Homo sapiens: one gene and its partners. The protein of the gene in region 1 purifies or fractionates together with the protein of each later gene. This does not show direct contact. Each region holds a gene or a part of one and is shown on either strand. Other genes may lie near its edges. The genes, in order: DHX15, SF3A3, CAPZA1, RSU1, ZKSCAN4, MCMBP and TMOD3.

Region 1 (4,195 bases):
CGTCAGTAAGAACTTATTTTCTATTTTTAGCTGTAAGAATAGCTATTCATTTGTTTCTTAACAATATTTCTTCTCCTTTAGGGAAAATCTAATTTCCAAGTTACTATTCATTTGTGGATTACATTTTATTGTTACTAAAAACAGCATTATTTCCTTAGCTTAATGGTCCAATTTTACAAAATTAGCGATTTTATATATTAGGTATGTTTCTTTTACCAAGTTTTTCTACCATTGTAAAAGAATACCATTATCAGATTAGATTTTAAGCCTAAAATTATACATTACTATTTCTATTTACTTGATATGAAGTTTGAAATTCATGTTTGTTCGGGTGCCATTGGAGTACATATATAGAAAAGGCTCAACTTAATGTATAGCTTTCAGTTTGTCACAGGCACACTTAATAGAGCTAAGTACTAGAGCAAAGTTCTTCCTGTACTTGCAGTAAAAAACAAAAAACAAAAAAACCACAAAGATAGCAGTGATGGACCTTTAACCAAAGAATTCAGTTACAACTGTGCTCAAACTTACTGCAATTTTTATTAGCACTCAAGAGAGCCAATGCTTTACTTATCTTTTGTGCACAATGACTTACTTTACTTTTGTAAGCACTATGTCATTACGAAGCTATTTACAAGGTATTTAGAAAACAAAATTAATTCCTTAAAACCATCTATAAAATCCACTATCATACTAAAAATTAAAAAACAAAAACAAAAGTGAAGTCCACCCAAACTTTGAAGAGCTGGGCTTTTTTTTGTTCCTTTCCCTCTATTACCTGACAACATAGCAGTAATAGATAGGACCTCATTAGAACAGTTGTAGTCACAACTTGCAATAACCATTTTTGCGAGCTGTGGATCTAGAGGAAACTCTGCCATCATGGATCCCAATTCAGTCAGATCTCCATCATCATTTAAAGCAGCCAGGTAATTCAAAAGTTCCAGGGCTCTCATCAGAGTTTCAGGAGCTAGTGGTAAAAGACAATCTATTAGACACGGTGCCTTAAGCAAGCAAAAATGTGACAAAGTACAAACTATTATAAGCAATCTCATTTTTCATTTTGCAGTGGACCAAACTCAAACTCAAACTGTCATCCAATTCAATTATACAGATCTAGCAAACAATGAATCATAAAAACATTGCAAAATTTTCCTGTAGGCAAAACTGTCTTCTTCCGAAATACATTAAATAATTGCTAATTCATCAATGTGTTTATCAAACTGTTTTTCCCCAAAGAAAACTTAGGAATTCTCACATTTTCATGCCCAGAGGATAATTCAATTTACCCAAACCCCCCCATAATAACTTTTGAAGAAAAAAAAAAAATGTGCTCATATAACTGTCACCTTTTTTAGTTTTAATGCTATCATGTAAGACTTAATCTTGATGCATACTGGATGGAAAAAGCAAAATGTATTTAATACATATATTAAATAGGATGGAGAAAAACACTAAGAGTCAATTTTGGTTAAAAGATCTGATAAAAATGTGTTTTGATAAGTCATACCTGGTGGATCCATAAAATCAAAATGTACCAAGTCATCAATACCAAGTTTCTTCAATTGTAACACAACTGATCCTAAATTAGAACGCAAAATCTCAGGATAGGTGTTATCCTAGCAAAGAACAAAAACATTTATTGGTTATGTTAAAAATGCCTCAGTCTCCTCGTTCCAGAAAACAAAAATCTGCTGCCTCCTGAGCTATTTGTTTTGGCATTACTTCTACACTGTCTCAGTAGAGATAAATACTTGTAGGCTAGACTAGAGAGAAACCATTTTTCTCCAACTATCTTTATAGTATTCAGTGTTTGCTACTGTCCATAAAACTCGCAACTGCAGAAAGAAATTCGTATAGTAGTCTTCACTCATCTGAACTCGCAATTTCCATGGTTTCAGTTAAGCAGTGTCAACAGAAAAAATTTTAAAGATTCCAGAAAAAATTCATCAAGTTTAAATTGTGCACCATTCTTAGTAGTATGCTATATACACTATACACCCATTTGTCACTTAGCAACCATCTGTTATTAGATCAACTTTTGCAGTATCACAGTGCTTGTGCTCAAGTAACCTTTTACTTAATAATGGCCCCAAAGCGCCAAGAATATTGATGCTGGCAATTTGGATATGCCAATGAGAGGCCCTGAAGTGCTTCCTTTAAGTGAAACGCTGAAAGTTAGTAAGGAAAGAAAAAAAGTTGAAACCTAGTAACAAAAGAGCAAAAAAATCACATCTAAAGAAAGAATGCATCTTCTATCAGTGAAATTGTAAAGAAAGATATTTATACATAGTATATGTAAGTAAGGTTCAGCATATTCCAGTTTTTAGGCGTGGGAGGGGGAGGGTCTTGGAATGTATCAGCCTGGAATAAGGGGGTGTACGACTATCTAAGTTAATTACACCATACATTTCACTCCTGGAAAAGCTAAGGAGCTTTTAATCCTAAAAGGCAAGATTAAGTAAATAAGGCAATGTTCTTCTGGTAAGATAATTCAACCTAACATTTTAAACATATCGGCAGGAAACGACAATACCCCATACCTGCATTTCTGTTTTATAAGCTTTCTCTGTGTAAAGTCTGAAGCATTTTCCAGGTCTGGTACGTCCAGCTCGACCAGCCCTTTGCTGAGCTGAAGCTTTACTAATAGCTGTCACCAAAAGGGACTCAACTCTGATTCGAGGATTGTAGACCTATTGGAATTGAAATAACACAAGAGTCTTTCTTCAGTCAAACACAAAATTGTGATGCAACAGAAGTATCCAAAGCCCACAGTTAATTCCAAAATAAATAAAGAAATATCGATAGCCATAAATCATGCTGCTACAATAGACAACCCACCATCCTGAACCTTAAAGTTCTTTCAGACATTCTAATTCGATCATCTGAAAGACTCTAACATGAAAAACTTCTTGTCAAACACACAGCTTATATAATCCTTACTCCTCCTAATTTCAGTTCTATCAGGCTGACCTTGTTCCTTGCTTTTTATATGCTGGGCAGTCAAGGATTCTGCCCGAAAAGAAACCTTCACTTTCAAAACTCGACGGTCTGAGTACTATTACTCTGTTACTGTTTAATGAAAAAATTTCCATCAATAACAAAATGTAATCAATTTATCCAAAAGATATTTGAAAAATAAAACGTATTTATTGAATAGCCACTTCACCTGCATTTCACTTCATTTAGTATACAGCACTGTTAAACTAGAGGAGTAACATAGTACTGTTTTCAAATAGTGTGCCTAGTTGACAGCAGTAACTCTAATAATGTTGGGAGAAGTGACTGAACTGCAGGGATAGAAATCCTGTACTTTATTACTAAACCCATACTGTTAAATGAATATACAAGCCAAAACACCCACCGTCACTACACTGAAACAAAGAAAGCAAAGCAACTCTAAAAGAAAAAAAAGCCTAGAATTACATATTAAATACTGTCTTAATTTCTGAGAGCCAGCCAAAACATAAAGGGTTCATACAGCAGAAATTTGCAAATAAAAAAAAAGATAGGAAAATAATTCTGAAAGGTAAATTTTAGCCATTAAATGAATTGGTTGTAAGTACTGTTAAACCAACTCTAATTTATAAAGTATCCACTAAATATGTACCTTCTGTTTCGCAAATCCAGGATCAATCACAAACACCACACCATCTATTGTCAAAGACGTCTCTGCTATGTTAGTTGACACAACTACCTGTTAAGAAATAGAGTATATAAATTATATTACATATCAAATAAAATTAACAGGACTGTTAAAGATCAGCCACTAACTTTCACTGACACAAGGAATTTCAAGCCAGCAAATAAACTAGAAATATCATTTGATCTTCAATGGCCAATGCTTTAAAAAGGTAAATTAATATTTAAGGAACCAAAATTTTGTTTACACCACAACAGCAACTTCTTTCTCAACAAAGCTATTACTTCAGGTTATCACTCAACCGCATTACATTTTGCTTAATCAAATTAATGGACAGCATAAAAAGAAAAATACTGATGAAGCAATATAACGTGCCTTACAAAACGTCTGATAAAACAGCCCTTATAATTAGTATTCAAATTTCCACAAGTGTATATTTCAATGTTTTTGGGCAATATTTACAAATGAAAACTTCGTTATTTATATCACCAAAATTCAACTCAACATTTTAAACAAAATGCCACATGGAAAAAAACTCAAGTTATAATCCAG
Region 2 (4,195 bases), on another chromosome or scaffold:
GAGGCAGGAGACTTGCTTGAACCCTGGAGGTGGAGGTTGCAGTGAGCCCGGATTACACCACTGTACTCCAGCCTGGGTGACAGAGCAAGACTCTGTCTCAAAAAAAAAAAAAAAACTGTACACAGCAGACACAATCAGAAAGGCTGGTCTTCTGAAGGACTCCAGAGACACTGATCATCTTTTCTGGATGAGTGCTGCCCTTTCTTCCACTTTTTCTTCCTGGAAAGAGATTTCTTTTCCTCCTACTCCTCTCCCTGCTTTCTCTCTGAGACAAGCATACTGGTCAGGCTAGGCCTTTCTCTACCCCAACCCACACTTCAGCTCCTCCTGAAATATTCAAGAACATTCACTGCCAGCTTTGTACTAATAATATTCTAGCCCTACTAAGTTTCTCATAATCTTATGAACATGTAAGTTGACTTACATGAGATGACTTATGAAAATGCCTTTTCATAAGTCATAACTGAAAGGCCACTTTGAGTAGCCTTTCTGTTACTTGCCCTTTGAGTGTCTGCTTTGTGGGCTACTCCTGAGTATTTTCTAAAGCTCAGGCACAGAATCTGCACTATTCTGGACATTATATTGTGAGGGGACTCTATTCTCCATGACTGGCTTTATGGGAATTGGGCAACTTTGGGAGTATCATCTAACAACAGAATAGGAACTTACTGAAGAGCCTTGTACCCTGACCTCTATTTTGTGCCATACTAGTTTATCAGCTATCCACTCCTCTTTTGAACCTAATGAAAAAGTATCTTCTGTGAGTTCCTCTCCCTTTAACTCCTGTGCTTTATACCATTTTCCACTTTCAGCAGTCAGTCACTTACCCCGAGAATCTCTACATATTCATAGATCTGGGCTTCTAGAAAAGCAATGTCTTTGTTCCTTTCAGTGTCTCTGAGAAAAAGAAACAAGCTGTTTCACTCAAGGATTCTCTCATCCATTGTTTTGTTCCCTATATCTGGGAACATTTATTGCACAACTGCATTAAAAATTATAAGCACATGAGAAATACGATGCTATGAAAGCAAATGCTCTGTTCATCTCAGGACTCTCTGACAAATACTGAGGGTATTTCTCAGAATGCATGGAGGCTTCCTCTATGACCTCACTTAGAAGATGAAGGACACATCAAGACCGCTTACATTTCCATCATTATAATCTACAAAGGAAATGTGGTATATAAGAGCAAGCTCTGCAGCAGGTAGACCTAGGCCCAAATCCTGACTCTGCTACTTAGAACTATGAGAGAGTGGACACATTCCATAACTTTTCTGAGTCCTTATCTGCAAAAACTCAGGATAACAACTAATTTTCTGGGTTGTTGTGAGAATTAGAAAAAAACGTACATTAAGAAAATACTGGGCCAGGCTCGGTGGCTCATGCCTGTAATCCCAGCATTTTGGGAGGCTGAGGCTGGCGATCACTTGAGGTTGGGAGTTTGTGACCAACCTCGCCAACATGGTGAAACCCTCTCTCTACTAAAAATACAAAAATTAGCTGGGCACGGTGGCTCACATGCCTGTAATCCCACCACTGTGGGAGGCTGAGGCAGGTGGATCACCTGAGGTCAGGAGTTCATGACCAGCCTGGCCAACATGGTGAAACCCCGTCTCTACTAAAAATACAAAAACTAGCCAGGCATGGTGGCGCACTCTGGTAATCTCAGCTACTCGGGAGAGTGAGGCAGGAAAATCGCTTCAAGCAGGGCGGTGGAGGTTGCAGCGAGCCGAGATTGCGCCACTGCACTTGAGCCTGGGTGACAGAGGAAGACTCCGTCTCAAAAACAAACAAACAAAAAACACACAAAAATTAGCCAATGTGGTGTTGCACATCTGTAATCCCAGCTACTCGGGAGGCTGAGGCAGCAGAATCACTTGAACCCAGAAGGCGGAGTTTGCAGTGAGCCGAGATTGTGCCACTGCACTCCAGCCTGGGCAACAGAGCGAGATTCCATCTCAAAAAAGAAAAAAACAAACAAACAAAAAAAACAACCCTGGGTCGGGCACGGTGGCTCGCGCCTATAATCGCAGCACTTTGGGAGGCCAAGGCAGGTGGATCACTTAAGCTCAGGAGTTGCAGACCAGCCTGGCTAACATGATGAAACCCCATCTCTACTAAAAATACAAAAAATCAGCCATGTGTGGTGGTGCGTGCCTGTAGTCCCAGCTACTCAGGAGGCTGAGGCAGGAAAATCTTTTGAACCCAGGAGGTGGACGTTCCAGTGAGCTGAGATTGCACCACTGCACTCCAGCTTGGGCAACAGAGTGAGACTGTCTCAAAAAAAAAAAAAAAGAAAAAAGAAAATACCTTGTATAAGTATGTAGCTCAAGAATTAGATTCAACTTTACCAAAAATAAGCTTAGAAAAATAGGTTTTGAACCTATTTAGCCTTTTAGCCTCCATAACCTATTAAAGGTGCCATGAATATGGTTTCAAATTTAGAAACTTGATGTGCTCTCAATCAGATGAATACAGACGGTCCTTGGTTTATATTAACAGTGATAGTACTCTCTGCTATTAGCAGAGATAAAGAGCAGACTGGATCTCTGTCAACCAATAACGGAGATAAAGCAGGCTTTAAAGTCTCCACTGTGGTTAAAAATTCTGCATGGGAATAACATTTAAAAGCCACAAGCAGCAGTGCTACCCCAGCCACTCACCGCTTGGTGCCCTTTGACTTGGGATTTTTGGCAAACAAAGAGGTATCAAGTGACTCCAGGGACTTTCCTTTGGTACTGAATAGTCTCTGGGCTCGCTCTTCTAGGGTCCTAAGGAGACAGGACGGCAAAGGATTTTAGGGTTACTTTACCACACAGGCTGGCTTATTTTTGCAGTGTGGAGCAACAAAAAAAATGGAATCAGAGCTACTTAGAAGACTGTGCAAACACACAGTAAATCGATAGTTTTGATAGAAAAACTATTCCTTACCCGCCACATTTCAAGCCTAAAGCTAAGAGAGCAGATTTCAATCTGTCCAAACCCAGAGAAGCCAACTCCTATACAAAGAAGAGAAAAATTACAATATTACATTAACAGATTTTTGGGAAACCCCAAATGCAGGCCAGAGGGTGGGTGTTCCTGAGGCTGTGGCAGGACCACACATTTCACAGCCAATCTAGCAGTAAGTCTAAACTCTCCAGAGGACTGAATCTATAGTTATCTTCAGACTTAACCATACTGATAGTGTTCCATTTACTTTACTACGGCTTAATGTAGTTAGAATAATTATTTCAGTTTCCCAAGTAGTAATTTTTTTCTTTTTGCCTTGCTACTTTCTTTGTAGATGCTTGATCTCAAGAAATAGTGCCTTATCACAACACAACCATGGTATTAAAGACAGGAGAGCAGTCTTTAAAGACAGAAAAATAGACAGAGAGAACACTACTACTGCTGAAGGAAACATACCTCCCAGGAGGAGAATGCAGAGAGGTCAAGATGGGCTCCAGCATGGGTCAGGGCACTGCTTGTCTCTTTCTGGAAAGAACAATATGGTATTTATTAAGATCCAGGTTTAGGCCAGGTGTGGTGGCTCACACCTGTAATCTCAGCATTTTGGGAGGCCAAGATAGGTGAATTGCTTGAGTTCAGGAGTTAGAGACCAGGCAGGGAAACATGGTGAAATCTTGTCTCTACAAAAAATTATCTGAATTAGCTGGGCATGATGGCATGTGCCTGTGGTCCCAGCTACTCAGGAGTCTAAGGTGGGAAGATCTCTTGAGCCCACAAGGTTGAGGCTGCAGCAGTGAGGTATGATCATGCCACTGTACTTCAGCCTAGAAGCCAGATGGAGACTTTGTCTCCCAAAAAACAAAACAAAACAAAACAAAACAAAAAACAAAAAAACCCCACCAGGTTTAGGATGAAGCTAAGGTTTGTCCACATTCTCTCCCTGGAGAGTTCAGGAAAAACTCATGTTTATCCCTAGAAGTGAGAATGTAGATTCCTAACATATGATCTGATAAGCTCTTGGTTGGCAGGAACCACATAGCAGTAATGATGTGATTGGTGAAAATCTGGGCACAGTCAAAGGCAAGTGGACCCTGGCAGTCTTGCTCCAAAGTACACTCAAAAAAACTCACATACGGCCAGGTGCGGTGGCTCACACCTGTAATCCCAGCACTTTGGGAGGCCGAGGTGGGCGGATCACCTGAGGTCGGGAATTTGAGACCAGCCTGACAAATATGGAGAAACC
Region 3 (4,195 bases), on another chromosome or scaffold:
TCTACAATGCTGATACCATGGTTCTAGGAAGTTAATGCTAATGCCACAGTTACAAGAGATCTAGAGCGCTAGGCTACTAAGATATTTTGTTAACAGAAACAGAACAGTATGCTGTCTTAGGTTGCACCTTCCCAGAAGGAGACCCCAAGACAAAGATTAGAGAAAAAGTAGTTTATTCAGGAGCGAATCTCACAAAGCTACAGTAGGGGACAGAAGAAGTGGGACACAGAAGGGAAGGAAGCCTTAGAGGTACGTTTATGAGCAGGTTACAGCTGTGGGTATTGGGCTCCGGAAGACTAAACAGAATGTGCTTGAAAGTTGTCCTACTTGAGGAAGCTGCCATATTTATCTACCAACTCTTACATATCACTGAGGGCTCCTCCTAGAGCTGTGAACTCAACACCAGCCTGTCTCACCTGAGTTGGGCATGCTCCTATGGCCAGGAGCTACTTGTTGCAGGAAGCTATAGGTATATATAAAAAGAGCAGATTTACTTTTACAGAATTTATTACCTATGCACTTGATTAAATTAGAGCATTAAAAAAGACAACTCTTGGCTGGGCACAGTGGCTCACCTGAGGTCAGGAGTTCAAGACCAGCCTGGCCAACATAGTGAAATCCCACCTCTACTAAAAATACAAAAATTAGCTGGGCGTGGTGGTGTGTGCCTGTAATCCCAGCTACTTGGGAGGCTGAGGCAAGAGAATTGCTTGAACTCAGGAGGCAGAGGTTGCAGTGAGCCAAGATTGCACCACTGCACTCCAGGCTGGGCGACAGAGCGAGACTCCTCCTTCTCCTCCTTCTCAAAAAAAAAAAAAAAAAAAAAAAAAGACAACTCTTGGTAATTGTTGTTAAAGCACAGCTTCACATAATATAATACAGGTACGATTAGGTACTGATCTTCTCGGTTACCTGTACCTATTCTGACCTTACAGTTAGTGAGGCTTAAATATTAAATCACCCTGAGTTTAGAAAGTCAAACCTCTGCTAGGATATTAAACTTCAATCCAGACAGGCATCAAATGAGTTAACAGCTATCTTATTCAGCTGCCTGTCTACCCTGACATCAGCATTAAAAATCTACTTCTGGGCCAGGTGCAGTGGCTCACGCCTGTAATCCCAGCATTTTGGGAGGCCGAGGCGGGTGGATCACCTGAGGTCAGGAGATCGAGACCAGCCTAACCAACATGGAGAAACCCCGCCTGTACTAAAAATAGAAAATTAGCTAGGCGTGATGGCGCATGCCTGTAATCCCAGCTACTCGGGAGGCCGAGGCAGGAGAATCACCTGAACCCAGGAGCCAGAGATTGCGAAGAGCCGAGATCATGCCATTGCACCTCCAGCCTGGGCAATAAGAGCAAAACTCCATCTCAAAAATCAATCAATCAGTCAATCAATCAATCAATCAATCAATCTACTTCTGCTTGGCTATTTATATTCCAAAACACCTGCCATTCTCTCTAGTTATAATTTTTAGGAATTAACCCAGCCTGGGCTGGGAGGTGGAGGTTGCAGTTAGCTGAGATCACGTCACTGCACTCCAGTCTGGGTGATGGAGTGAAACTCTGTCCCAAAAAATAATAATTATTATTATTATTAATTTTAAATCTTTCCTAAAACTGCTGTTTGATAATTCCTAGTTATATCTTATGTTACCATTGAAGGAAAAATAACAATAACCATGTTGCCATACACTCTACATGCTATCCTTTATCAACTCAGAATAGCTCTCTCTGTTTACCACCCCAAGAAGGAGGCTTCTATTTCTATTCACTGCCATCAGTCTCCCTTTGCATCTACACATACTTGGTCCTTATTTAATACCAAAGCAACCTGCACATGTTTTAAAGATGTGAAGTTTTAAGTCTATAAACATGTTGGAATCTCACCTGAATCTTAAGCACGCCAACCACCTGGGCTGTAGGTGGTGTGATGGTGAACTTCCACTCTGATCTCCAACGACCATTCCTATTAAAACACACACACAACATTGCAGAATTAGCAATAAGCACAAGAAAGAGGTGATTTGCCACTGAGGTACAGAAGTTGGGAAAGAGGGGTGCAAAAAAAGAAAAAAAAAAAGAGAGAGAGAGAAACTGTCATTTCCAGTTTGGCAAACCCAAAGCTCTGTCTACTCAAATGTAAGTCTGGATCTAAGTGGCCTGACCATAAGCCTTTTCTAAGTTATTTTGTCTTTCATTTTTCCTTTTTTCCCTTGAAATGGAAAACCATGCCTATTCTGCTCATGGGAGGCTCTTCCAAAATCAGATGAATAGGCTGCTGAGTTACACAATTAACTCAAGTAGCAGTAACCCTAAGCCAAGTAAAACTCAGATTTTCAACAGGGCACTTTACTAATCACTTGTTCTCACTCAAAATAAGAGTAACTTTTAAAGGAAAATATAATTATAAAACCTTAGAACTGTAAGGAATCTAAATCCCTCATTTATAGATGGAAAACTGAAGTCTGTAAGTTAAATAATTATTCCAAGCTAGTTGGATTAAAAACCAAGTCTCAACTGCTGGTTTCTTTCAGATGTAAATAGAAGAGAATATCTACTTCTTACCAGAAGTTTTTAGGCTGAAACTGGTGGCTTTCAATACATGCAATAATAGTCTGTTGCCCATCGATAGTTTTAGCATAAACCTATTGTTGGGAAAAAAAAATAGTTAAAGACTCCAAACACTTTTAATTTAAACAACATGCATTGTACAAAAGCAGAGTGTTAAATCCTTGGGGGAGACAAAGAATCACATAAAATGAGCTTAGAACACAATAGTGCACATGGGATATGAAAACAAAGCAGAACATGTTAGGTTCTACCAGAGACAGTGATACAATGAAAACAGAGGGAAATACTGCTCTTGGTTTGGGGTACAAGGCGGGTGCCATTTAGGCTGGGTCATACAAGACAGATGAGATTCTGATAAGCAGAGACTGAAAATAAAGGCAAGACAGGAAACTAAGGACTTGTTCAGTGAACAAGACTGTCAGGTTTAAAGGGTGTGTGTGAAGTGGACTAATGAAAGACAAAACAGGATGGTAGATTTAGGTCATGTAATAGTAGATGTAAAGTAAGAAGTTTAAGATTTTATTCTATAGGCAATGGAGAGACAGCAAAACATGACTAGAACTAATATTGTGGGAGAATAATCAATACTGGTATTCAAGATAAAACGAAGAAAAGCTGAAGCTTGGTTAGGAGGCCACAGGATTAATCTAGGCAACAAGTCAGAGTTATATTAATGGGAATGGAAAGGAAGAGTTGCACACAGAATGTAGAAGTACAATCAAAGTCTAGCAGTATATTGCAAATGATGGGCAAAGGAAAGAAGGAACTCAAGAGTGACTAAAAAGATGGTGGTGTCATTAACAAACTGGAAATTACAGATGGAGATGTCTAGTTAGTAGTTAGAAACACTAACTCTTCTTTAGTGTGGGAGAGGTGAATGGAAATGCAATCACCAAGGGAAAGTAAGAAAAAAAAAATAGCGCTTTATAGTCCACAAAATATGTTCTTACATGTATTTTCTTTTTCCTCTAATAAATCTGATGAAATACAGTGTTATCTACAGATAAGAAGTTGAAGTTCACAAAGCTTCTTGCCTAAGGTCACTCAGGAAGTGGTAAAGGTAGAATCCAAACCCACTGTTTTTGTGACACCGAAGTCTGTGTTACTTTACCTGCATTAAATGAATTATGAACTTTGGGGGAATGCCTACATTTACAAAGGTAGGGGAAAAAAAGAACTTAGTATAGAGTAAGAATAATTAGGGGGCTGGGTGCAATGGCTCAAGCCTGTAACCCCAGCACTTTGAGAGGCTGTGGCAGGGGGATTACCTGAGGTCAGGAGTTCAAGACCAGCCCGGCCAACATGGTGAAACCCCATCTCTACTAAAAATACAAAAATTAGCCAGGTGTGGTGGTGGGCACCTGTAATCCCAACTACTAGAGAGGCTGAGGCAGGAAAATCGCTTGAACCTGAGAGGCGGAGGTTGCAGTGAGCTGAGATCATGCCACTGTACGCCAGCCTGGGCAAAAAGAGCAAAACTCCATCTCTAAAAAAAAAAAAGAATTAGGGGTTGCTGACAGCAGCCTAAGTAAAAGATAATTTCTAGAAGTGGTTGATTGGCTTCAGTGTGAAATGCCATTCGGAAGTCATGGACAAGGAAAAGGACACTGGACCAGGTAACT
Region 4 (4,195 bases), on another chromosome or scaffold:
TCTTTTTTTTTTTTTTTTTTTTTTTTTTGTTTGAAACACAGTTTCACTATGTCACCCAGGCTGGAGTGCAGTGGCGCCATCTATCTCAACTCACTGCAACCTCCACCTCTCAGGTTCAAGCGATTCTCCTGCCTCAGCCTCCCAAGTAGCTGGGATTACAGGCACCCACCACCACACTCGGCTAATTTTTGTATTTTGAGTAGAAATGGGGTTTCACCATGTTGGAAAGGCTGGTCTTGAACTCCTGGCCTCAAGTGATTCACCCTCCTCATGGTGAATCACCCCACAATTCACCCCAAAGTGCTGGGATCATAGGCGTGAGCCACCGCACCCAGCCTACTGAAACTTTTTAATGTTGACTTAACTGCATAAAAGGTAATCCAAGGCTCCATGAGGAAATGAAACAGAAAAAGTTAGCAGACACATTGCTTAGACTACGCCAACCCCCCAAAATAGGATGCTAATAACAGACATAAAAACAGATATACCAATTATGTTATAGATACCTCTCATTTATCCAGAATCCTAACCACATTCAAATCAGTTAAAATAGTCTGTAACAGTGCAGAATGGTGATTAATTGCCTAATAATTACTTTGAGGTAATACAAAATCCAGAAACTCACAATTTAATCTTTTAAAATTAAAAGCACTTTCATATGCAATGTATTCTCATCCTCTATAAATTATAAAGTGATCTATGGAAAACTAAAAATTGTTAACCAGAATAATAAACAGAGAATTTCCTCTAATTCCAGATGGCTAGGAGTTTGTTCATGCATTTTTCTGTATACTATCATATACAGAATGACTTTTTTCAAGATACCATACAAACCAAGCTCTAAATAGCTTCCTGTTTACTAAGAAAAAATTAGAGCCCCATCTAAAACTCACGATAGCAATGATTAACAATTTACAAAGAAGAAGATAAACAATCATCTGCTAATTTGTGACTATATTTTCACACATTTTCATAATTAACTAATTTCTAAGGGTGAGCTACATTCGTATTTTTTTAAAAAAAATTGAATCTGTAATAACTGTACATATCTATATGGCTTATGAAACAATTAATACACATCCTATACCTATCTCATTTTATCCTTAAGGTAAGTCTTTAGACTTATACTGTAAGTGTCATAGTATTGTCTAAAGTAATCTAAACCACGCTTTACATTGCTTTTATATAGGAGGATACGGTATCATTTTGGCAATTTTAGTGTATTTCATTTTAAGGCCATTGTTCTTTTTTCTTTTTTTTGGGATGGAATATTGCTCTGTCGCCCAGGCTGGAGTGCAGTGGCACGATCTCAGCTCACTGCAACCTCTGCCTCCCTGGCTCAAGCGATTCTTGTGCCTCAGCCTCCTGAATAGCTAGGATTACAGGTGCCCCTCCACCATGCCCAGCTAATTTTTGTGTTTTTAGTTTCACCATGTTGGCCAGGCTGATCTCAAACTCCTGACCTCAAGTGATCCACCCGCCTTGCCTTCCCAAAGTGTTGGGGTTGCAGGCGTGAGCCACCATGCTCCGGCTGGCCATTATTCTTTACAGCTTGTCTTCTCTGTTTCTGTCTGGTGGAAACATGGCCACAGCAAGTGCTAAATGTTTGACCAGGAGCATGGCGCTCAGGCTGCAAGACTGCAGAAATGCAGCCAGCCACTTCTGGGCAGAGGCTCTGCCCTGCCAATCAATCCCGACCCACTGGCCTGGCACAGATTCACAGGGTTTTCTTGAGTGTGGGACATATTTCTGATACCAAAAAAAAAAAAAAGAAAAGAAACTCTTAACTAAATGTGACCTTTAGCAATCTTCTAGCTTTCTTCCAATAGTTGGGATGTTAGATTCTCAAAAGTTGGTGCCAGGCTGGGCATGGTGGCTCATGACTGTAATCCCAGCACTTTGGAAGATGAAAGCAGGATTGCTTGACACCAGGAGTTTGAGACCAGCCTGGGCAACAAAGGGAGACCCCGTCTCTGCAAAAAATTAAAAAAATTAGCTGGGCATGGTGGTGTGCTCCTGTAGTCCCAGCTACTTGGAAGGCTGAAATGGAAGGATTGCCTCAGCCCAGGCGCTTGAGGCTGCAGTGAGCCGTGATTGTGCCACTGCACTCCAGCCCAGCAATACAGTGAGACCCTGTCTCTTAAAAAAAATTAATTAATTAATTAAAAAATAAATTTTAAAAGTTGATGTCAGACACAAAAACAGATTACATTTGAGTAGGGATGTTTTTGTCTTTTTTGTATATGCTTAAAATTATACTAGATCTCAGCATTTGGGGTCAGGCAAGTATTTGATAAATGACAGTTTGTTTTGCAGCTGGGGGCTGGGATAAGGTAGGAAAATAATGACGGTACATATAACAACAGAAGCACGTGGAAGTGGCAGAATTCCTTTCAACCTTGACACATGGAGGAAGAAAGAAGCAGGAATCGTGAGGTTTTTGGGACAGTTTTGCATAGACTCCTTTCACCTGGAGTGAGGACTTGAGGTATTTGGATGCTGTGACTTTAAGCTGGCAGATTCCGCTTCCTCTCCTGCCTTCCCCTTTTCTCTAAGAGATTATCATCTCACTACAGTACAAGCTTCTCTATAATAGAATGACGCATTGCTAGTACTCTCTACTGATTTTATAAATAAACTGCTTAACAATTTTGTTCAGAACACTTGTAATTCTTTGCATTCACAGAAGAAAAAAAATATGTTCTGATCTGAATGGTGAATTTCCTTAGTGCCATGAATATTCAACTAATTTAATACCTCAAAAATTCTCTAAAGAAAATCAGTAAAAATCCCCTTGAAAATATCAATAAAAAACAATTTACAAATAGAGACAATGACCACATGCTGTTTTTTCTTGTTTTTTTCTTTTGAGAAAGGGTCGTGCTCTCTCATCCAGGCTCGAGTGCAGGGCATGACCACGACTCTGTGCAGCCTCAATGTCCTGGGCTCAAGTGATCCTCCCAACTCAGCCTCCAGAATAGCTACAATGACAAGCATGCACTACCATGCCTGGATAATTTCTTTTTCTTTTTCTTTTGTAGAGACGGGGTCTTGCTATGTTGCCCAGGCTGGTCTCAAACTCCTGGGCTCAAGCAATCCTCTAGTCTCGACTTCCCCAAATGCTAGGATTACAGCTGTGAGCCACACCACACCTGGCCGACATGCAGTTTTTAATAAAACATCTTAAAATGCTAAGTGCTAACTGCCATCAATAGGATACTGTCACATAATATTTTTAAAGGCGTAATTATAAATACTATAAAATCACAGTCTACTATTTCAGAAAATCAGAGTCTACTTACTATTTGTATGTCTCAGAACGGATATACTCAAAAACATGGGACACGCCAAGCTGGAACTGGTCTGCAATGGGGGTCACCCAGGGATTGTTCTCTGCTTTGAATACCTGCTTCTGGCCAGTTAAATCCAAGTTTCCTGGGGGGGGGGAAAAAAAAAGTGAAGGTCACTTCATCCAATACAGATCAGGTCTAAGAAGTCCTTCTCAGTAATCACAGCCTAAGTACCCTAAATCAAACCCTAAGTGCCTCTTGGATCATTTGATGTCTTTTAAATTTCTTAACCCAAGTCATCACAGGTACACAGTCATGACAGTACCTTGGCCCCAGAAATTAAGAACAAAGGAAGGAAGAAAGAAGACAGATGGAAAAGGAAAGCAGAGCAGAGGGAAGGAGGTATTTGCTGCAGAGACAAAAATGACTTGTTCAAAATTAAGAGAAGTGATAATATGAAAACCATTTAAAATTCTATCTTGACCATGTCAGTATGCATCATGCCTTGTCCTGGCTGATCTGGGCCCAATCTGATCAACACCACTTTTTTCACCAATCAAGACAGCGTATGAATGGAGAAAGACAGGAATATTACCCAAGCCAAACCGTTGTTACTCAAGTATAAGAGCATAAGCACATCTCGGAATCAGCCCTAAATGAATCTCATTAACATGGCAGTGATAAAGACTAATTACCTTTTAAAATCATTCCTCATTTCATTCTCCAGCAATCTGGAAGGTCAGATACTAATATTACTTTATAGGTGAAGAAATGGAAACTTAAGGAAATTAACTAATATGCCCAAGATCAGAAAAAGCCAGCATGAAGATTTCAAGCTGATGCTCAATCTCATACACCTTCTACAGTGTCTGGTGAGGCCATCAGGTTACATATCAATTTAGATA
Region 5 (4,195 bases), on another chromosome or scaffold:
TCATTCCTACCTTTTTTTTTCTCTCACTAAAGGAAGAGGCAGAGAAAGTCTTTTGCAGAATTATATACGTCTTTGCCAAAATTAAGAACAAATCCAAGAGTGCCATTCATCAAAAGCTTTTTTCATTATAACCATTCATTCTATCGAAGTAGAAAAAGTGCTATAACCATTTACTATTCAAGCAAAGGGAGAAAAAAGAAAATAGAAGATTTCTGCGCTGCTTCAGTTACAGAAATGAAATAGAATGGCAGACTAGTCACCACTAAAATTCCTAAAAGCAATTTAAGAAAATATGAAAAGTGGCATTTTATTGTGCTTTATATACTGCTTATATCTCAACTAAGTAGTTTACTTTACTAGATCTAATTTCATTGGAAAATAACTTTTTTGGCCATCCTTTCAATAGGCTACAGATAAACTCATTTTATAATTCAGCTATTTATAAACACATACCACTGTTTTATAGAAAAGTGGAGTATCTAAAAGACTGTAAGCAAAATGATTTTATTTGATATTATATAATACACCAGATAAAGTTTCCTAGATAATATTTTGATTATAAAATATCATGGCTCCCCAGTGCTTACTGAATAAAATTTAAACTTTTTGCTCTGGCACTGAAGGCCCCTACAATGTCCCTATCTCTTAAAATTTGCTTTATTTACTCAATTGGACAAAGTTGTTGTGAGTCCATTCAGCTTTCTAACATGTCACCCTGTCCATATAATAACAGCTTGCACAGCTGGAAGCATCCTTTTCCTTCTCTGAATTTCTACAAGCCTCAGTTTACCACTCATAAGGCATTTATCATTACACTGCCTTATTTGTGTGCAAGTCTTACCAACCTGACTGTACTAAAGACCTAAGCCTAAGTGTGTATACACACACACACACACACACACAAATAGAGGCTTTATTTCTTCCCTTTTCTAGCATAGCAGACACTGAAAAGTACTTTTCTACAATATTTCCCTCCTCTACAGAGAAGACTTTTAGGCTTGGAGGCGCAGGAGTGAAAGGAGGCACAGTGGTCCTTAGTTAATCTCAGGAAGTTATATTTGTATAATGCTTTCTGGTTTGTAAAAGGCTTTCACATATATCTCTTCATGTAACATCAGAAACAAATATCACAGAAAAGTTAACAGAGTTGTCTGTAATGAGTTTGAGTGTGTAAAATCAGAGCTATTTAGCAAATATTTAGGAGAAGTGAAAAAGGAGAAAAGGAAATGGCTAGCTTTGTGGAAATAACATAAATAAAGCTGATTTTAAAGAAATTTGAAAAGGCTAGAAAAGATTGAGCAGAGAAAGTCTACAGAACTTTGGAATTCTAAAGAAGTTTTAAATTAGACTGAAAAGGAGATAATGAAGGCAATAAAAGATTGTAGGGAATTAATAAAGGGAGAGCTCTACGGTTTTGTAAGTCTCTGGTCAGCCTGTGGTATTTCAGAGGAGAAATCCAGAAAGGGTATTTGAGGATAGACAAGAACACGATGCTGGTGACTGAATAAAACATGGTCAGGGATTTCATCAGAAGCAGAATCCATTCATGACAGTCTGGCAATGCTGGAAGATGGTAATAGGCACTTGAGCACTTCGGAAGAAATCAGTCTTTAAGCATCGCAGGTGATTTGGGTGAAAGCAGAAGATATCAAAAAATTCTTATTTCTTGTGAATAACTCACAGCATTGAGCCTTGACATCACATATCAACACTTTGGATATTGTACAATCTTTTTCATCAGATACCTAGGATTCCCAATGTGCTTCTGAACAGACACATTTTCTTTTCTTTTTTTTTTTTCTTTTTGAGACAGAGTCTCACTCTGAAACCCAGGCTGGACTGCAGTGGCACCATCTCGGCTCACTGCAACCTCCACCTCCCAGTTTCAAGCAACTCTCCTACCTCAGCCTCCCAAGTAGCAGGGATTACAGGCGTGTGTCACCATGCCTGGCTAATTTTTGTATTTTTTGTAGAGATGGGGTTTCACCGTGTTGGCCAGGCTGGTCTCAAACTTCTGACTTCATGTGATCTGCCTGCCACAGCCTCCCAAATTGCTGGGATTACAGGTGTAAGCCATGGCACCCAGCCTGAACAGATACATTTTCTCCTACCACTCAGATGTGAGTTTCTATCCTCATAGGCTGCCTCTAACCTGATCTTCCTGTCCCCAACTGACAGGGCAGTTTTGAAACCATGAATAATAATTATAAATATTTGTTATGAATCTTCGGACCTGGAGAAAGTTTAAGCTTAGCTGGCATAAGCCTTGATGCACAGTCAGCTATAAACTGGGGAAGAGGGACACAGATGACGTCTTAGCACTTGGTCGGCCCAAGATAACTAAAAGGTAAGAAACAAGATGGTAAGTGTTACAGAATGTGTTCAAAATTCATAATAATCATTTTGATCTAACTCAGTAAGTTGATTTTTATTTACCTGAATGTGAAAGACTCCCCCTAAAGAGTAGCAAAATTAATGTAAACTAACATAATTAACATTGACCAGACAGTGGAGTTCTATGGATGGAGCAATCTCACAGTGTCTTAATGATAAAGAAGCTGTTTAAGGCATTCTTCTCATCTCTACTATCATGGTAGAGAAATATGGATTCCCCCACCCCAATTCTGAAAACAGTATGTACGTGGCAACAAATACACTAGATTGGCCCAGAATCTAGAACCTCAGAGAATAATACATAAATTCAAATGGCATAAGTTAGAAATTTCTCAGAAATATAGACAACATCAAATTTTTGGTACAAAGGCCATTTTACTGGTACATTTAATAAATGTTTATTAGCACCTATCATACAAGGCACAAAGAAGAGTAAAAGACCTCATGGATCTGACCAATTTGTGAAAGATTCATTAGAGGCAAAATGAATGGTCAGAGCAGCAGCCCCCCACATCAGAGCCATCCAACCAGATGTCCTAAAGTGCTGGCTGAGGGCAATTAACAAGTCCAGAAGGCCATTTAAATACACTGGGTGAGAACAAACTATTTTAGGTCCTACAACTTCCAGACCACTCTCCCATGGCCTCTTATCAAATGACTTCTTCCAATCACTTTCTAGAATGTAGAAGATAACTCATCGTCTCAGCCAGACTACATTTTCTAATACCCGATGATGTATAGTGGTAAATAAAGCCCTGGTCCACAATTTCTGTAACCATTAAGGGCTCCAGGGTGGCTTCAGTTCAGTGACAAATGAGCACCAATGTTGGCATGAATACCATGGGTCACTGTGAAAGAGTTTTTTTCCCTACATGGCTTCTCTGATGTTGAACAAGGTATGAAGTTCGAGTGAAACCTTTTCCACATGTGTCACACTGATAGGGTTTCTCACCAGTGTGGATTTTCTGATGTTCAATAAGACTTCTATTCCGTGTGAAACTTCTCTCACACTCATTACATTTATAAGACACGGGAGCCTCAGTATTTTCCCACTGGCTTTCCGTCCTACCCTGACTTTCCCAGGACTCCCCGTGCTCAGGATTCTGAACATTTTTATCACCATGAATCCTCTGATGTCTCAGGAGATGTGAATTCCGCCTAAAGGCTTTGCCACACATATTGCACTGGTATGGCTTCTCCCCAGTATGAATTTTGTGATGTTCAAGGAGGCTGCAGCTCTGGCTGAAGGTCTTCCCACAGTCATCACACTCATAGGGCTTCTCCCCAGTGTGGGTTCTCTGGTGTTTGATAAGGTTTGAGCTGTGACTGAAGACCTTACCACATTCTTCACACTCATATGGCTTCTCACCAGTGTGGACTCTCTGATGAATGACAAGGGCAGAGCTCCCAATGAAGGTCTTTCCACAGTCTTCACATTCATAGGGTTTCTCACCAGTGTGGATTCTCCTGTGTTTAGTCAGGCCTGAACTTTGAGCAAAACTCTTTCCACATTCATGGCAATAATGTCGCCTACTCCCTATGGCATTTTTCTGCTTTCTTTGTAACCTGCCCTCCTGTTCACCAGCTTCTGCATGTGTAGGAATCTGGGCAATGTCTTCCCTCAGGTGGCATATCTTCCCATGCTCCTTTTCTGGAAGCTTCTTGACTGGAGGCAAGTCCCTGCTCTTAGTCTGTATTTCACCACCTGAAACAACAAATGGCCGGCAACTGTGGGTTATGCCCTGCCATGGGAGGAAAGCTCTGTGATGAGTACTAGGGAGACAAGAATTACAGAAGTCTA
Region 6 (4,195 bases), on another chromosome or scaffold:
GGGCAGGTGCAGTGGCTCACACCTGTAATCCCAGCACTGTGGGAGGCCAAGGCAGGAGGATCACTTGAGCCCAGGAATTCAAGATCAGCTGGGCAACATAGCGAGACCCTGTCTCTACCATTCCTTACACTCACTGAAAAAAAAATTTTAGGTTATATACAACTACGCAAAAGAACCCAACACTGTAGGCCCATAAAGACTGCTCCAACCATTCGCTGACACAATAAAACTTTTCACCAAAGAACCCTTACGACCCTCAACATCTAATACTACCCTTTATATTACTGCTCCATTATACTAATACTACCCTTTATATTATTGCTCCATTATATAATATATAAAATATATAATATATGATATATATTAAATGAGACATTATATATTATATATGATATATATTATATAAGATATATTATATAAGATATATATCTGTTCCATTGTACTACTTTCAGAATACTATGGCAAAACATAGTTGGTGTATATAATTAGTTTATAACATATGCTTTAATCAAATTCATATGCCAAGCCTTTATCTTACGTTGTTAAATGTGAATTTGTCCATAGATACTCTTCTAAAAGTTATTCCTAGATCTGGCTTTAGTGCGAAGGAAGTCAGAAATGGAAGAGAAACATCTATGTACGTACCTGGGGTATCCAGCTGCCCCTGTTCCAGGAGAGTCTCATCGATTACAAGGGAAGTATTGCTGGGCAGCTGGAGGAGCCCACTGACCAAGCGATTGGCTGTGTAGTCTTTGTGGGGAATGAATTTCAAATGGTTCATGTTCTCTATAGTCATCTGCAGACGAAAAGACTGCAAAGAGAAATTTTTTAGTGAACAAGAATTTAAGTTTCCCTGTTTTAAGAAAATATGTACTTGGAATTAAACATTGTGTTTCATATGGAAAAAGTGATCTTATAAATTTCTAAGGGAGTAGTGATATGGTTTCTTGAACTCCAGAAGCAAAAATAGTATCTAGATCTTACATTTGAATTTCATCCATTTTATGAGCTACTTTATTCTCAAATGTCTTGTTCAATATTCTTGAAAATCAATTTTAATTTAACCAATGAAACAAATGGTAGATAACTGACATATAAATATTAAATACCCCAAAACCTAACCTCTTTCACCTAACACAAGCTAGCTAGCAAAAAGAAAATGTTAATTTTACTCTTCAAGACAGGGAGAGAAAAGCTTAATTTTCCTCTATATTCTTTGAGTTAAAATTGTATTCATTTATCATAGACATTTTTGAACAAACTTTTCAGAGAAAAATCAAGGAGCAGAGCACACTGAGCTGTGGATGGACCTGCAGCTCTCAGGAGGTGCCTCCAGGACGCGAGCACCTTCTCACTCAGTGTTTAACGAGTAAGCGAACCATCTATGCTCCTCCTCCAGCTCTTGAGCCACCATTCCCAACACCCTCTGTGCTCTGCCTTATACACCAATCCATTCTTCCATCCCTCCAGCCTCAAACAATGTGGCAGGGATGGAGAAGAGGGTATGGTGGGGGAAGGCTGTCAAGGAAGAGGTAAGATATATTGCGAAAATTTAGAGGAGTTTTGTGTATTACCTCAGTGATTCTAAGAAAACGGGGAGCTTAGGGGTGCTTAAATGACCTACCATGTATTAATTTATTTGTTGGTCTTCTACCTAAACTCTGTGAGGGCAAAGGATCTGTTTCAATAATTCTCAAAATGTGGTCCCGAGAACCCCCAGGGAATTGCTTAAACCCTTTTACAGGGTCAATCAGGTCAAAATCATGCATGGATAAAAGATCCTTTCAATGTGCGAGACTAATGAATTTTACCATAGCAGACTATGGAAAGTTTACGAATAGGATTTCAGATTCCACACTTAACTATCTTTAAGAAAATCTCATGTGGACAGTTTTGGTCTAGTATCAAAGACCACCACCCAGTTATCTGCAAAGGCTATCGAAACCATCCTTCCTTTACCATCTACTTTTCCATCTGTGTGAGGCCAGCTTTCCTTCATATACTTCAACCAAAACCTGAGACTACAATAGACTGAAGGCAGAAGCAGATACAAGCATCCATTGTCTCCTATTAATCCAGACATTGAAGAGATTTGCAAGAATGTAAAACAATGTCACCTTTATCACTAATCATTTTTGGCTTGGGAAAAGTTGTTTTTATAAAAATATTTATATGTAATTTTTTATTTTTAATAGGTGTATTTACTTTATCTTCTAGTTTGGTAAATTAATGATAAATATAATCATAACGTGAAAAACAGCTCTTTGAGTATGAACACATTTTTCAGAGTGTAAAGTGAGTCTAAGGAGACTGAGAACTGCTGGTATATTCCAGTCCACTTCTGCTTCTTGAGGGCCTGGACGAGTGTTAGCACTGAGACACTGAATACATTCGGTTCAATAAAGATCTAGTGCACCCTCTTCAATTTCCAAAGAAGTGATCAGTATTTTCAGTCACACAACTAATCAGAAGCAATTCCCCTGTTCCCAAGATCCTACCACCACGCAAATACTGCATTCCAGATACCCTGGCAAATAAAGTGAGCTCAACTTTCCAAACAGGAATTAAAATTGAGGCAATGGAGATAAAGAACTTTATTACCTCAACTAAAAGAATTATGCTCCTACAATTTAGAGTTTATTTAGATTTAAGACTTTAGTGTACAAAAAGGATACCAAATTGGACAAATTGGTATCAAGAGAGTGTAATTTTAAGGGAGTTACTACAATTGTTTTGTTAGACTTACAGAAATTTGTGCTTAGGCAAAAAGACAAAAAAAAGTGAAATGTTTAGGGGAACGTACATTTTAAATTATGTAATTTGGCAGGCTTTGTTTCCCCTTAAATAAGATCTATTAAAATCTCTAAGTTAAATATTTGAAGTGAATGAAAGACAGTTAGATGGATTTTTTAAGTGTGCTTAGGTTTATAATACATATTTATATTCATCTTACTGCTGGAACAAGATGTTGAATAATTCGATACAAGTGTTCTGTGAAGGTACTATTCCGTGGGCAACCACTCAAGTTAACTGTAAATTTTCCTAGTGGAAGGACATCTCTTCTTGTATATCTAGAAAAGAAAGAAATCAATCAATAAGATGCTGAAGTGACTTCCTGATTTCTATCAAATAGCGAAGAATAGAAAAATTAGCTTAATATTGTCATTAAAAATAAACCAGAATATTCTGACCAGTTATTTTATCAGAATAACAGCAATAAAAGTAATAGCCAATATTTGTACGTAAGTGCTGCTGGTCACGTGCCAAAGACCGTTCTGAGTATGTAAATGCTTCCTCATTTAACCCCTAACCATTCAGCGGTAGGTGCTGTTGTCTTTGCTTCACAGATGAGAAATCCGAGGCACAGAGATGATAATAAGCAACATGTTCATCTAAATGGAAGCTGACAGAGCTGGGATATGAATCCGGGTAGTTTGGTTCCAGAGCCTGTGCTCTCAACCATTATGTACTACTGTCACAGACTGATTTGAGAAAAGATAAGATTTACAGCACAAAGATGTTTCCTGCAACTTTATAATAGAGAAAAGCTAGGAAAAGCTAACATTTAGGGAAATGGTTACAGTATGGTACAACTGCATAGTGAAATACTTTGCAGCCACTACAAAGTTCATGAAGCATTATGATGGGAAAATGTTTAATATATATCAACTGCTGAAAACAAGACACGCATCTGTGCTTAGAGTGTAACTAAGACCTATGCAAGGATGTATACATATGTAAACAAAAACCAATGAACATGTACCTAAAGGTTAACGGAGGTTCTAAGTGGTGAAATTACAGATGATGTGCATTTTCCTCCTTATGTTCTTGGAACTTGTCAAAGGCCCACACTAGTTTTAAAATGAGAAACAAAGAAATACAGTGGAGTCAAGGGATGCGGTGCTAGTGTCAATGTCCACGTTAAACGTGCACATGACGTGGGCGCCTTGGGATGTATAAACAGAGCGTTCAGAATGCAAAAGGGATAAAACAGCTCATTTTACTCATCAGCCAGGTCCTTTATCTCAGGGGTCCCCAACGCCCAGGCCGTGGACCAGTACTGGTTCATGGCCTGTTAGGAACCGGGCCACAACATAGGAGGTGAGGGGTGGATGAGTGGGCATTACCGCCTGAGTTCCGCCTCCTGTCAGATCAGCAGTGGCATCAGACTCTCACAGGAGCGCGAACCCTATTG
Region 7 (4,195 bases), on another chromosome or scaffold:
AAAAGAAATGTTTAAAAAATATTTAATCTGCTATAAAATTAGAAAATTTCCAAATGATAACACAAATTTTAGTAATTCATTTTAAGTATTAAAAATATTGCTCACTAGAAAAATTAGCCAGGTGTGGTGGTGTACAAATTGTAGTCCCAGCTACTTGGGAGACTGAGGCAGGAGGATTGTTTGAGCTCAGGAGTTCAAGGCTGCAGTGAGCTATGATCACACCTGCACGCCAGCCTGGATGACAGCGAAAGCCTGTCTCGAAAAAAAAAATTGCTCTGAATTGACTATTATACCTAAAAGTTAATCCTAATGGTCAAATGGCAAGTCATAGGAATAAATAGACACCAAATAAGAGAAGACTGAGTGTGGTGGCTCACCTCTGTAATCCCAGCAATTTGGGAGGCCAAGGCAGGAGGACTGCTTGAGCCCAGGAGTTTGAGACTAGCCTGGGTAACATAAAGAGACCCCATCTCTATAAAAATTACAAAAAATTAGCCAGGCATGGTGGCACGTGCCTTTAGTTCCAGCTACTTGGGCAGCTAAGGTGGGAGGATTGCTTGAGCCTGGGAGGCGGAGGTTGCAGGGACCTATGATCACACCTGCACTCCAGCCTAGGCAACAGAGTGAGACCCAGTCTCAAACAAAATGGAAAAAAAAAAAAAGAGAGATACACCTATTTCTTAGCTGTCAATCTGCCAGATGCAGGGAACATACCAAAAAAGAGAAGGCATGGTCACTTCCTTCTGACATCAAAATAAGCATGTTTTGAGATGAACAACCCCAAACCTCCTTGTGTGGGGGGACCCACCCCTTATTCCAGTCCCTGTGAAATATACAGCCAAAGAAACAACATAACAAAGCCACATCTTTCACAGCTGTTTGGTACAGGGGTCACCACTCTCAATCTAACCAGGACGGATCAAATTCAATTCTTCTCCAGAAATCTGGAAAGCTGGGAGACAAAACTCAAGTTGAGACATAAGGTATCACCAAGTCTGGAGGCACTACCATAACAAGCTAGTCACCTTGAAGCTGAAGCTAAGGGGAAAGCACAGAAGGTCAGTCTGCAGGGAAGAGAATGAAGCAGGGCTGGGGCTACAGGGAAAAAGTAAAGGAGGCACCTGCCTCAGGGTGTCTCAGTATTTAATAGGGTGCAAAAAAGCTCAGCAATCAAGATAAATTACACAGTAATGCATACTATTTTTTAAAAATTAAAATTAATGTCCTAAAATGGAGCAGAGGCACAGAAAGAAGCCAAAGAGAGCCCTACAAGCAGAGAGAGGACAGAGACTTTCAAAGTGTCTGCTCTGGGTACCAGTGGTAGGTCATTTCACGGACCTCAGCAGCCTTACAATAGTAATGCAGTACAACTCCCAGCTCTGCCACCATACCATCTAGCAAGATAGCTTAAGTGGGTTTGTGTTCCCGGAGACCTAAACACCTTGACTAACATACTCTATTTGGGAAAATGAGACATGCACATAAAGTGCTTTTTGTTTTTTTCAAGAAAATATATAATTAACTGCCAAAAGAATGGTACTGGCTATTAGTGTACAGAAATTCAGAGATCACTGTGGGTGGTCAGGGAGGGACAGAATTAGCTACACAGAGAGGAGTGGAGAAGTATATACTAAACAAAGAGATCAAAGCACAGGCTGAAAAAGGTTGGAGCTGGGAGGGAATCCAGGGCAAGAAGAAGAAAAGTAAAGGGAAAGGAGCGATCTTCACACACCCTGTGTTACACAGAAGTAAGTACGCCTCCATGCTCTTCCGCCTGCAGCCCTTACATCACACGGTTCATTACACAGGAAATGTCCTTTTGCACTCTTTCTCATGTTCAAATCCTTTCACATCTTTCAGGGACCAGTTCAAGTAACATTTCTGCAGAGGCTCCCCTTGTGTGCTATACCAGATTCAGGCAGTGGGAGAAGAAAAGAGGAAACAGTTTCTTCTGAGGTAGGAGGGAAGGCTAAGGGGCTTAAAGCAGTGCCAGCTATTCTCTGGTGGAGGGCACACTATATCACTTGGAATGCTGGCCAATGTCTAAGGAAAGCAGGAAGTGAGATGACTTGACAAGGAATAATAATGGGGGTTCAAGAAAAGTGGCAGAGGAAAGGCAAGCACAGAGGGTGTGCTGAGGACTAACAGAAGAGCCCACCTGCCCCGAAGGCCTTGCAGAGGTGAAATCCTACACATCTGCCTTGGTCCATTTCTGTGTAGGGTTCTGTAATTTTTCACCAAGAAACTGTAAATCTTAGGGACAACAGGAGAAAAACAAAAGTGGGGTGGGCATGACTTTGAAATCATCACATATTTATTGCTATTTCCAGTGAAATTAGACCCCCAACTCCTCAGCTGGTCTAGCACTCAAGTGGGCACATTAAAGAGGAAAAAAAAAAAAAAGAATAGTTCCCTAAGAGTATTAACCTGGGTTAATTATAGCCCACCATGAATGAAAATAAATCTTGGGGGTTGTATCATATCTTGTCACGTTTGCCTCAGGGTAAGGGCTGCCTGAATATAAGCCAGACTCATATACATTTGAGGGGCTTCTTCTGAATATTCCTTAACTCCTCATCAAAGTTTTACCACCACACCCAGGGAATGAAAATATTTTGTTGGCTGTAATTTTCCACATGGATGGAAATCCCCTACTGTATAAGTATCACTAATAATATCCTGCTCAAAAGAATTGCTATGCTATGGTTAAGGAAATACAACAATCTTCTTACCTACAAGTCTATATATATATATATCAAACCCAGCCCTCATTTTCTTCTAGTTTACCATGTTTTTATTCACTTTCTCACAGACACTTCAGGAACTGTGTTCACTTGTATGTACTTATCATGATGTTCATGCTTAGTTATGCCCAGATATGAAACTGTTTATTTGTAGGGGGTTATCATCACTGTATATGTTACCTTAGTTTGTAAGTTTGTCTTAGTGTGTTTGTGTTCCTTCCTTAGTGAGTGGGTGCAGGTGTTGAACATATATACCCGAGGCAGTGGATATCTTTATAGCTCAAAAAGGGTGCACATCTCAGGAGGAACCTTGACTGTATTTCAGTATTTTTCTTTTTTCTTTTTTCTTTTTTTTTTTTTGAGACGGAGCATCACTCTGTCACCAGGCTGGAGTGCAGTGACATGATCTCGGCTCACTGCAACCTCCACCTCCCAGGTTCAAGCGATTCTCCTGCCTCAGCCTCCCGGGTAGCTGGGACTACAGGTGTGTGCCAACATGCCTGGCTAATTTTTGTATTTTTAGTAGAGACGGGGTTTCACCATGTTGGCCAGGATGGTCTCGATCTCCTGACCTCGTGATCCACCCGCCTCAGCCTCCCAAGGTGCTGGGATTATAGGCGTGAAAACGAATTCTTAAGAGTAGTATAAGGGTGAAAGAAGCCAGGCACAAAATATGACATATTATATGATTCCATTTATATGAGATGTCCAGAAGAGGCAAATCTTAAGAGAGAGTAGATTAGTGGTTGCCTAGGGCTGGGTGGGGGAGACCAGGGGGGAATTGGGAGGAATTAGGTAGTAACTGCTAATGGTAAGGGGTTTATTTCTGGTGTGATGAAAATGTTCTAAAATGGTGGTGATGGTTCTACAGTTCTGAATGTAGCAAAATCCACTGAACTGTACACTTTAAATGGGTGAATTGTATGGTGTGCGAATTATATCTCACTAAAGCTGTTATATGTTAGAGAAAGGGGGAAGGAATGAATAAGGAAACCAAAGTTGTCCTGCATTTCCACAGAAAGGTAATCCTGTCTTTGAAAATCTTAGCTTTTTTCTGCTTCTATTTTAGTTAAGCTTTAGGATTCAAGACTCCTCACTGGTAAGTCCCCAGTTGTCTTTTCTCCATCTCTAATCTTTGTCTTTACTAACAAGGGTGATCTACCTAAGGGAGACAGCATTCACTAGTTACAACTCAATCTCTGAACAAAAAACAATATGCACACTATGATTACAATCATATAAAAATACGTATGAGAATGAATCAGGCCTGGAAAGAAATGAGGAAAAGTAAAAATAGCTACATAAGAATAATGAGGTTGGGGTGACATTCTTTTTAAAACTTAGTGTATTATCAGCAAATAAACTTAGAAGAAAAAAATAACCAAACTGTCTCCCTAAAAATTGTTCCAAGGCAAATTCAGAAATTGCATCACAAAGGATTGGAATAGACA

The links.
Region 2: the proteins of DHX15 (region 1) and SF3A3 fractionate together in Homo sapiens (co-fractionation; 3 studies listed by BioGRID and IntAct, with this or other methods). This does not show direct contact.
Region 3: the proteins of DHX15 (region 1) and CAPZA1 fractionate together in Homo sapiens (co-fractionation; one large-scale study listed by BioGRID). This does not show direct contact.
Region 4: the proteins of DHX15 (region 1) and RSU1 fractionate together in Homo sapiens (co-fractionation; one large-scale study listed by BioGRID). This does not show direct contact.
Region 5: the proteins of DHX15 (region 1) and ZKSCAN4 purify together in Homo sapiens (co-immunoprecipitation; one large-scale study listed by IntAct). This does not show direct contact.
Region 6: the proteins of DHX15 (region 1) and MCMBP fractionate together in Homo sapiens (co-fractionation; one large-scale study listed by BioGRID). This does not show direct contact.
Region 7: the proteins of DHX15 (region 1) and TMOD3 fractionate together in Homo sapiens (co-fractionation; one large-scale study listed by BioGRID). This does not show direct contact.

The regions. Positions count from the first base shown.
Region 1 is NC_000004.12:24,539,330-24,543,524, forward strand, and holds part of DHX15 (ATP-dependent RNA helicase DHX15), read right to left. Parts: intron 3,698-4,195; coding exon 3,611-3,697; intron 2,694-3,610; coding exon 2,544-2,693; intron 1,620-2,543; coding exon 1,511-1,619; intron 971-1,510; coding exon 779-970; intron 1-778.
Region 2 is NC_000001.11:37,976,057-37,980,251, forward strand, and holds part of SF3A3 (splicing factor 3A subunit 3), read right to left. Parts: intron 3,478-4,195; coding exon 3,409-3,477; intron 3,000-3,408; coding exon 2,932-2,999; intron 2,772-2,931; coding exon 2,664-2,771; intron 898-2,663; coding exon 828-897; intron 1-827. UniProt on the Homo sapiens protein: Component of the 17S U2 SnRNP complex of the spliceosome, a large ribonucleoprotein complex that removes introns from transcribed pre-mRNAs.
Region 3 is NC_000001.11:112,657,474-112,661,668, reverse strand, and holds part of CAPZA1 (F-actin-capping protein subunit alpha-1), read right to left. Parts: intron 2,648-4,195; coding exon 2,568-2,647; intron 1,969-2,567; coding exon 1,890-1,968; intron 464-1,889; coding exon of another isoform or gene 434-463; exon of another isoform or gene 417-433; intron 1-416. UniProt on the Homo sapiens protein: F-actin-capping proteins bind in a Ca(2+)-independent manner to the fast growing ends of actin filaments (barbed end) thereby blocking the exchange of subunits at these ends.
Region 4 is NC_000010.11:16,691,721-16,695,915, forward strand, and holds part of RSU1 (ras suppressor protein 1), read right to left. Parts: intron 3,436-4,195; coding exon 3,303-3,435; intron 1-3,302. UniProt on the Homo sapiens protein: Potentially plays a role in the Ras signal transduction pathway. Capable of suppressing v-Ras transformation in vitro.
Region 5 is NC_000006.12:28,241,877-28,246,071, forward strand, and holds part of ZKSCAN4 (zinc finger protein with KRAB and SCAN domains 4), read right to left. Parts: intron 4,100-4,195; coding exon 3,240-4,099; 3' UTR 1-3,239. UniProt on the Homo sapiens protein: May be involved in the transcriptional activation of MDM2 and EP300 genes.
Region 6 is NC_000010.11:119,837,890-119,842,084, forward strand, and holds part of MCMBP (mini-chromosome maintenance complex-binding protein), read right to left. Parts: intron 3,072-4,195; coding exon 2,954-3,071; intron 812-2,953; coding exon 646-811; intron 1-645. UniProt on the Homo sapiens protein: Associated component of the MCM complex that acts as a regulator of DNA replication.
Region 7 is NC_000015.10:51,835,633-51,839,827, reverse strand, and holds part of TMOD3 (tropomodulin-3), read right to left. Parts: intron 1-4,195. UniProt on the Homo sapiens protein: Blocks the elongation and depolymerization of the actin filaments at the pointed end. The Tmod/TM complex contributes to the formation of the short actin protofilament, which in turn defines the geometry of the membrane skeleton.